Linked DNA regions of Homo sapiens: region 1 is reported to be linked to region 2. Evidence: microRNA targets listed by miRTarBase, many of them from high-throughput screens and not tested one by one. Region 2 holds a microRNA gene; the other region holds the end of a gene's coding sequence.

Region 1 (3,397 bases), not on the chromosome of region 2:
AACTATTATGGTGAAGGCCTACTTTGATCCTCTGTATGCAAACATGACTAACATAGGGCTATTTTCCTCCCTCCCTCCTGTAACTCTTCATGCCACATAGCTGTATTGGAGTTTGGTTGGAAATTGACATCCAGAATTTATGTGCGGGAAAATCAATCAGCTTTTCAAATCTATTTCATTGTACAGCCTGTGCAATGGCAGCACCAGCAAATAAAGGTTTTCTGTGTTCAGGTGTCTTTGATCTGGCTATAGTTAGATTGTTAATATTTCACTATTGAATTGGAAATTAACTTTATCATTTGTTTTAAAGCATAAAACTGTATAGCCAAATAACAACCAAAAAGCATGACAAAGCAAAAATGAAAACACAATCTAATTATAGATGGAAGAATAAACAAATTCAGGAGTCGGGCTGAAGATATTTATTCCTCATTCTCTTAGTTTCCTGGATACAAAGATTACTTTCATTCTTCTAGAATTTTTAGGCAGAGAGAATTCCCTCCTTCCACTTCTAGCCCACCCACATTTGAAATAAATGAATAAAATGACTGTCATTGATGATAAGGAGAATGCCAGGGCTGGATAATTTCCATCCTGGCTGTTTCTAGCAAGGACATTAGGTCTCTTCCATCATTGTTCATTAGAAAATCTCTGTCCCTCTGTTTCCCTCATGTTTTTTTCAACTGTAACTCATTACTGAGGCTAAGTAGCACTAACATTTGGGAGTCACAAGAAAAACGAGCTTCTAGCAGATTGCACTTGTCAAATACTTCACAAGAATGACGGCAACTTTCAATTGAGTTATAAAGATGGCATGAAATGTAGAAACTGTCAATATTTGGATGACATCGTTTCTTGGATTCTTTAAAATGAGCCTTTTCGTTACTTTTCTGAAAAGCAACAACATCTAACGGCAATAGAGGATATAGATGCTTCCATATCAAACTGGAATAGCAACAGAAGGCCATAATCCCACATTATGAGGTCACGTAAATGTCATTCTTGCTGATGTCTTGATTTTATTAAAAAAAATTTGTTAGAATATAGTGCATATGCTGAAGTATAGCTTGTTAACTATTCCAGTATATCAAATAAGCCATCCAGAAGGGGTAACAAATTCAGAAAGGCTAAAACCAAAGTCATAGGAAGATAAGATGAATTTTCCATCAAAAAAGTGCAAAACTGAAGATTTTGATGGGATATTTAGAAAGCAGAACATCCTTTTATTTTAGAAATAATAATCCACTATTTTTCTCCCTCTGTTAAGGAAAAACAATATAAGTAAGTTTTAGTTCTAAAGCCCTTACAAGGAAGATGGATTTAAGAAGATATGCAACAAACGATATGTTTCCACTGAAAACAATGACATGACTTTGGAACCCGGGGAGGCTGTGGGAAGTAGGCATCTGGCCTTATACTGGCTCTAGGATAGATATTGGTGATGATGCCTGGCATCCTCATGGTCGCCATCCCTTGTGCCCACTATACCACTGGCATCTTGGGTTTTTAGTACTGCTGCCCCCCTTCAGAGCTGTATCCTCCCCTTCAGGGTTTTCTGGGTGAGGGGACCAACCATTGAATCAGCCTTGAACTTGGCATAAACAAGTGACAGCATTTAAACACAGGCCAGGAAGGCAGAACTGCAAGCAAAAGCTCTAATTTCCTGTAATTTCAAATGAGACCACTCTGTGGGCTGTCAAGCCTTGGGTGAAGACAGGATATTCTTTTATGGAAAACTCACAGCAATTTCAGGAGGAGCTTTTGATATTCATAGGCATATGTTTGGGTCCTAAATGCACTGCCCCTTTTCTTAGCTTTTAACTGTAACACCTAGCAAAGGGCCATCCTTTACAGTTATGCAGCAGAGAGTCACCTCTTGCTGGTAGTCTCCATGTGAAGACCTCATGAACCAAGTAAGCTCTGCTGAAAGTCAGTGTCAAAGAAGGATGCACCTGCCACCATGGTTAGGAAGGAAGAGACCCAGATGGCTGCCAGGGCCCACCCTTCTGTTATGCCTCTGCACTCTGCTCTGGAAAAAATTCAGCTTCCATATTTCTCATTAGCCACTTGGAACAAATTGTGCCTTGGGAACCCTGAAGAAAATATTTTCACCTCATTGTCCAGACCTTTTCCAAGTGGTTTCCGAGGCTTTTGCCCATTTTCTATCCTGCCTCCTCTGTCTGGGGATTATACTGCTGCTGGGCTCATTGATTCCTAAAATTTATCCTGCAGCTTATCAAACCACTGTCTTCCTCCCCTTCCTTTGAATAAACCACTGTGTGACCAGCTTTGTGAAATAACCAAGAAAGCAGACAGGGGCCAGGATACACATGTGAGTGTTCAATCAAGCCACTGTGACCCTGGGGCAAAGTTGTAAGAGAAAAGACAGAAATTACAAGGATAATGCCTGAAAGATGCGTCAACATGGGTCCCTCCACCAAATTAAAGGAAACTTTTTTTTTCTTTTTTTTCTTTCTTTTTCTGCAGATAAACGGAACAAAATGCAGCTGGAGAAATTAGAGTAAAGGATTCCCCGTCCTTCCATGGGACTTGCCTTCCCCCCACCCCCACCCTCCTCCACAGCGTGTGCTGCTATCTTCCCGAGCTCCCCCAGAGCCAGGAGAGGCCTTGCGATGCTGAGGATTGTCATTTAGTTCCATTTCTTTGTTCCTTCGCTTCATCTTGTGCCCCTGCTGAAGACAAAGAGAAGCCATTTGTTAGATTAAAGATAAGACATCTTCACAGGCTTAGCAAGGAATACATTTTTAATACAGCCATTTAAATGTCTCTCACCCCTCACATAGGCCCAGAAATATCTTATTTGACTATCAAAGAGCTTTAGATGTCTGAACTGTAATTGCTGGCACATGGTATCTTTAAAGAGCATATAAATCACTGTTAATAAATGTATGCCACATTGACAACGAGCTTTGGCTGATGGGGACGATTAACTCAATTCTTCAAAGTATTCGTTGAAAACTGTAACCCTGAGTTGATGTGGCTTCCCTTTTCAGGCCCATGCTCACACTCTAGTTTCCAGGGATCAGCATATAAATAATAACAATTTTCATAATGCTGCTTTGCAAAAGTCATTGATGGTTATGCCACCACTTCAGATTGTACTTATTAAATTATCTGCCTTATTCACTACCCATGAGAGGACACTAAGAAGACACTGTGCCTTGCAAAAACCTATACTCTTTATTTTTTTTAGATTTTTAAAATTGAGGTATAATCTGCCTACAGGAAAACACACAGATCTTAAGCATACATTTCAATCTGTTTTGAAAAATGCATACATTAAACCCACACCACCAAGAAGATATACATGACATCACCCTGGAAAGTTCCCTTCCCTACTACCCCACTCCTGCTGGAATGAACAAATGATCTGATT
Region 2 (3,397 bases):
GGGCTCTTAAACAAAGATCATTCAAAGTAATTATACTTTGAATTAATCGAGGTAGGCAATTTATCTCGTTATTTTTTTTTGTTCAAAGACAGGAAAATAAAGATCAGAAATAAGCAAAGTTTCATTTTGAAGATAGAAAGAACCAAACAAACATGTCTTGACTTTTGCAGTATTTCCCTTGCTAAAGGGGGAATGAGGGAACTGTAAAAGACGTGACTTTGCAAAGTCAAGTCCTTTTTAAAAGACTCGGATCGAAATTCTTGCTATGCAACAAGGATTCAAGTTTGATTAATTTTCTGCAAGCGACGTGACAGCGGTGTTTTAAAAGATTAATTAAAATTGAAGTGATACGGAGCAGGAATTCAACCTGCAGAGGCGTCCCTGGCGCCTTGGGGGGCTTTGTAAGCGAGTCCCAAGCCCGAACTGCGGGCTTTCCCGAGCCTGGGACGCAACTCCCCGTCTCCTGGAGAGGAACGCGGAATTTGGCAGGGCGCCCGCCTGGCCGCCTGGCATCCTGAGCTGGCCGCCAGCTCTCGGGGGGTGGGGACTGGGTGTGTCCTGGGGAACCCGCTGCCGAGAGAGCAGCTAGCGCAGCTCGCGACGAGCCATTGAGGACCAGGGTCGCGCCGAGAGGCCGGAGGGGGCTCCAGGCAGCCTGGAGCTGACGGCGCCGGGCTGCGTCCTCTTCACCTGGGGGTGGGGGGTGGGGGCACGTACTTTGTGACCAGGATGGTGCCGAGCCCCCTCTACGGCGGGAGCTTGCAGGGGTGCGGGGGTGTGACTGGCGCTCCGCGGACTCGTGTCCACAGTACAGAGGACATGTAGGGTTCGGCCGGGGCGCGGCTGCACCGGGGCCTGCCTCGCGGACCTGGACTCGGGACTCCGGGCGGCCCTGCCTGGTGCCATTGCCTCAGCCAAGTCTCCCACCTCTCTGCTCGGTTTCCCGCCCCACCTTTCCCCTACTACCGCATCCCTGTCCCCTCGCTTCCCTCCGCGATGTCTCCATCCGAGTAAGAAACGAAGCTGAACGCATTGGTAACTGTGCTCAAGAAGATGCAATCGCGGGAGCCCTCAGGGTGGCGCACGGCGGAGAGGCGACGCGGGTGGCGCTGCAGAGGGTACGGTGGGGGGCGGGGAAGAGGGGGGCGTTCGTGTGCAATTAGCCTCCCCAGGGCGCGGACCACGGTGTCCCCTTCTCTCCAGCTGGGGGTCTCGGGTCCTGGCGCTGAGAGGCCGCACCTTGCCTTGCTGCCCGGGCCGTGCACCCGTGGGCCCCAGGGCGACGCGGCGGGGGCGGCCCTAGCGACCTGCGGCGGCGCCGGGAAAGCCCTGCCTCTGCAGCGGGTCCCAGGGGTCGGGGCCTGGAAGGGTCCCTGGGAATGCTCCGCGCCGAGAAGGCTCTGTGGTTTCTCCTCCCCCACACGTCTCCCTCTCCTCCCCTCTTCCCGGGGACCTCAGAGGTGGCGGGGAAGTGGGAAGGGAGGCGGGCTTGCAGACCGTGCAGGCTGGGGAGCCGGAGCTCGGGAGTTGGGGGAGTCCGAGTGAGAACGGAAGCGCGTGGACGCGATGGAAGGGGCCGGGGGAAAGGGGGACGGCACTGGGGAGGGCTGGGGTGCGGGGCAGGCGACAGTCCCTTCCCCTCCGAGCGGCGCGGGGGACCTCTTCCCCGGGGAACCCCCACCCAGCCGTTCCCAACCTCGAGAACAAAGGGTCTGGGAAGCACGGTCGGGGTCGGGGAGCGGAGGTGGAGGGAGGCAGGAAGGCAGGCGGTGGGGGCAGGGGAGGGCGCCTCCCCACGTTTCCTCTCGCGGCCGAATGATGGAAAGCTCCCTCCAGCAAACGCCTCACTGAGGCCGCTTCTGAATCCGGGAGGGTTCGGGTTCGTTACCTAACGGCTGCACTTCGCTCCCTTCCTCCCCCAGCGTCCCCACCCCCTCCGGGGACCGGGGCCCCGGAGCTGCCAGGCCCGCTGCACGCGGCGGCGCGGGAGAAACCACGGGGCAGCAGCGCCCCCTGCAGGTGCCGGGCGCCTCCGCAGCCGCTGCGCGGACCCGACTCTTAAGGTGGCACCACCGGGTTCCCAGCCCGCGCGCAACCCGCAGCCCTGGCTCCATCCGCCGCACTTCTCCCTGTAGCGGCGGGCCTGACCGTCCGGAACGGCCGGAGTGTGCTGATGCCTGCTGCTATCTGCTTGATCCCTTCACCCTACCTCTCATCCAGGACTTCTTCCGCGGATGCGCAGCTAGCGATTTCGACAGGCGAGATTGAAAATTCCGGGCGAGTATATGAGGTTGAGTAAGTCCCGCTTCAGGGAGGAACGACCAGAATGACATTTCTTTAAGCCTAAATCAAACTTTTATTTTCGTTTATAAAAAGCAGAAGGCCAGCAGGAAAGGGTCGCGGAGGACTGGCACATCCACAACCGTAGGACTCTTGGATCCAAGTTTTTAGGCTGAGACTGGGCGGTCCGGGGTTCTCCTTCGGCGCTCACACCCCGCAAACTCGTGGGCAGTGCAGTGCTGGAGGCCGGGGGCAGTGGCGGACCCGCAGGGTAACCTTGTCTCGCGCACCTCCCGAGCCCCCAGCAGCCCACTCTCGTCCGAATGCTTTGTTTATTTGGTGACACCAGGGAACGTGGAGAAGAAGATCGAAGTTCAGTTTTTCTTTTTTCTTTATTTTAAATATTTTTCTTAACTAAATGGTATGTTTATGTGAACCCATCATCTCTTGGAATTAAGTGTCCTCAGCGAACTCCAGATTCCTAGGGGAAACCTACGTGCCCAGAGCAGGAAACGCACAAGTCAATTCAGGTTCCGGTGCCATCCGCAGTAAATTCCCTTCCTTTTGCTCCAAATTCCTCCTCTGCGTCCAGGAGAGGGACCCCCGGGACTCCCGCACACCCAGGACCGGGAGCGGCAGAGCAGAGGGCGGGTGCGAGGGCGCGAGGGAAGGGAGGCGGCCTGCGGACCTGGGGCGCGCAGTTTCCCGGCTCCGTGGGAACCTCCAACCCCGGGGCGCGCGGCCTAGGCTCCGCCCTGCCAGGCTTGGGGCCGAGCGGCCCACCTAGTGGGTCCTGACCTGGGGAAGCCGAGTCCGCGCGCGGGTCGGGCCGCGACGAGGGAAGCTCGCCTGGGCAAGTGCCGCGCGGGGTCAGACCCACCCCAGGGGTTGCAAACCGCAAGCGAAAGTCGAGAGGGGCTGGAGCTTTCCCTCTGATCCGTTTTACACTGTGAAAACCGCAGGCCTGTCGCCTAGGCGGCCACTTTTAAATTGGGAAGCAAATAGACGAAAAACCAAAACAAACGTACGAGCTGACTTTTCCCAGCTAAGTTTCCCCTCAATAAAAAGCCCGCTTTCTGGGAAAGACAGAAACTGATCCGCGCTCACGATTGCTTTC

What was found. The annotated mature microRNA hsa-miR-1915-5p reads ACCUUGCCUUGCUGCCCGGGCC and lies in region 2 at 1,238-1,259, shown strand. An mRNA with a match to its seed (bases 2 to 7 or 8) in the 3' UTR can be bound and repressed. Matches are read on the target gene's strand: a 7mer-m8 pairs with bases 2 to 8, a 7mer-A1 pairs with bases 2 to 7 and ends in A, and an 8mer does both.
Region 1: the mRNA of MACROD2 is a reported target of hsa-miR-1915-5p. The part of its 3' UTR that is shown has no 7-base or 8-base seed match.

What each region holds. Positions count from the first base shown.
Region 1 is chr20:16,049,126-16,052,522 of GRCh38, reverse strand. MACROD2 (mono-ADP ribosylhydrolase 2) reads right to left here. Exons shown (of 18, transcript NM_001351661.2): 18 at 1-2,693. The coding sequence ends at 2,647. Among named protein-coding and RNA genes, the nearest start is that of KIF16B, 520 kb to the left of the region's middle.
Region 2 is chr10:21,494,471-21,497,867 of GRCh38, reverse strand. It overlaps MIR1915 (microRNA 1915), which reads left to right and starts at 1,227; the gene lies at 1,227-1,306. It overlaps MIR1915HG (MIR1915 host gene), which reads left to right and starts at 608. Exons shown (of 2, transcript NR_160800.1): 1 at 608-1,118; 2 at 1,923-3,397. RefSeq lists silencers at 1,128-1,377, 1,588-1,637, 1,688-2,127, 2,941-3,040 and an enhancer at 2,552-3,345.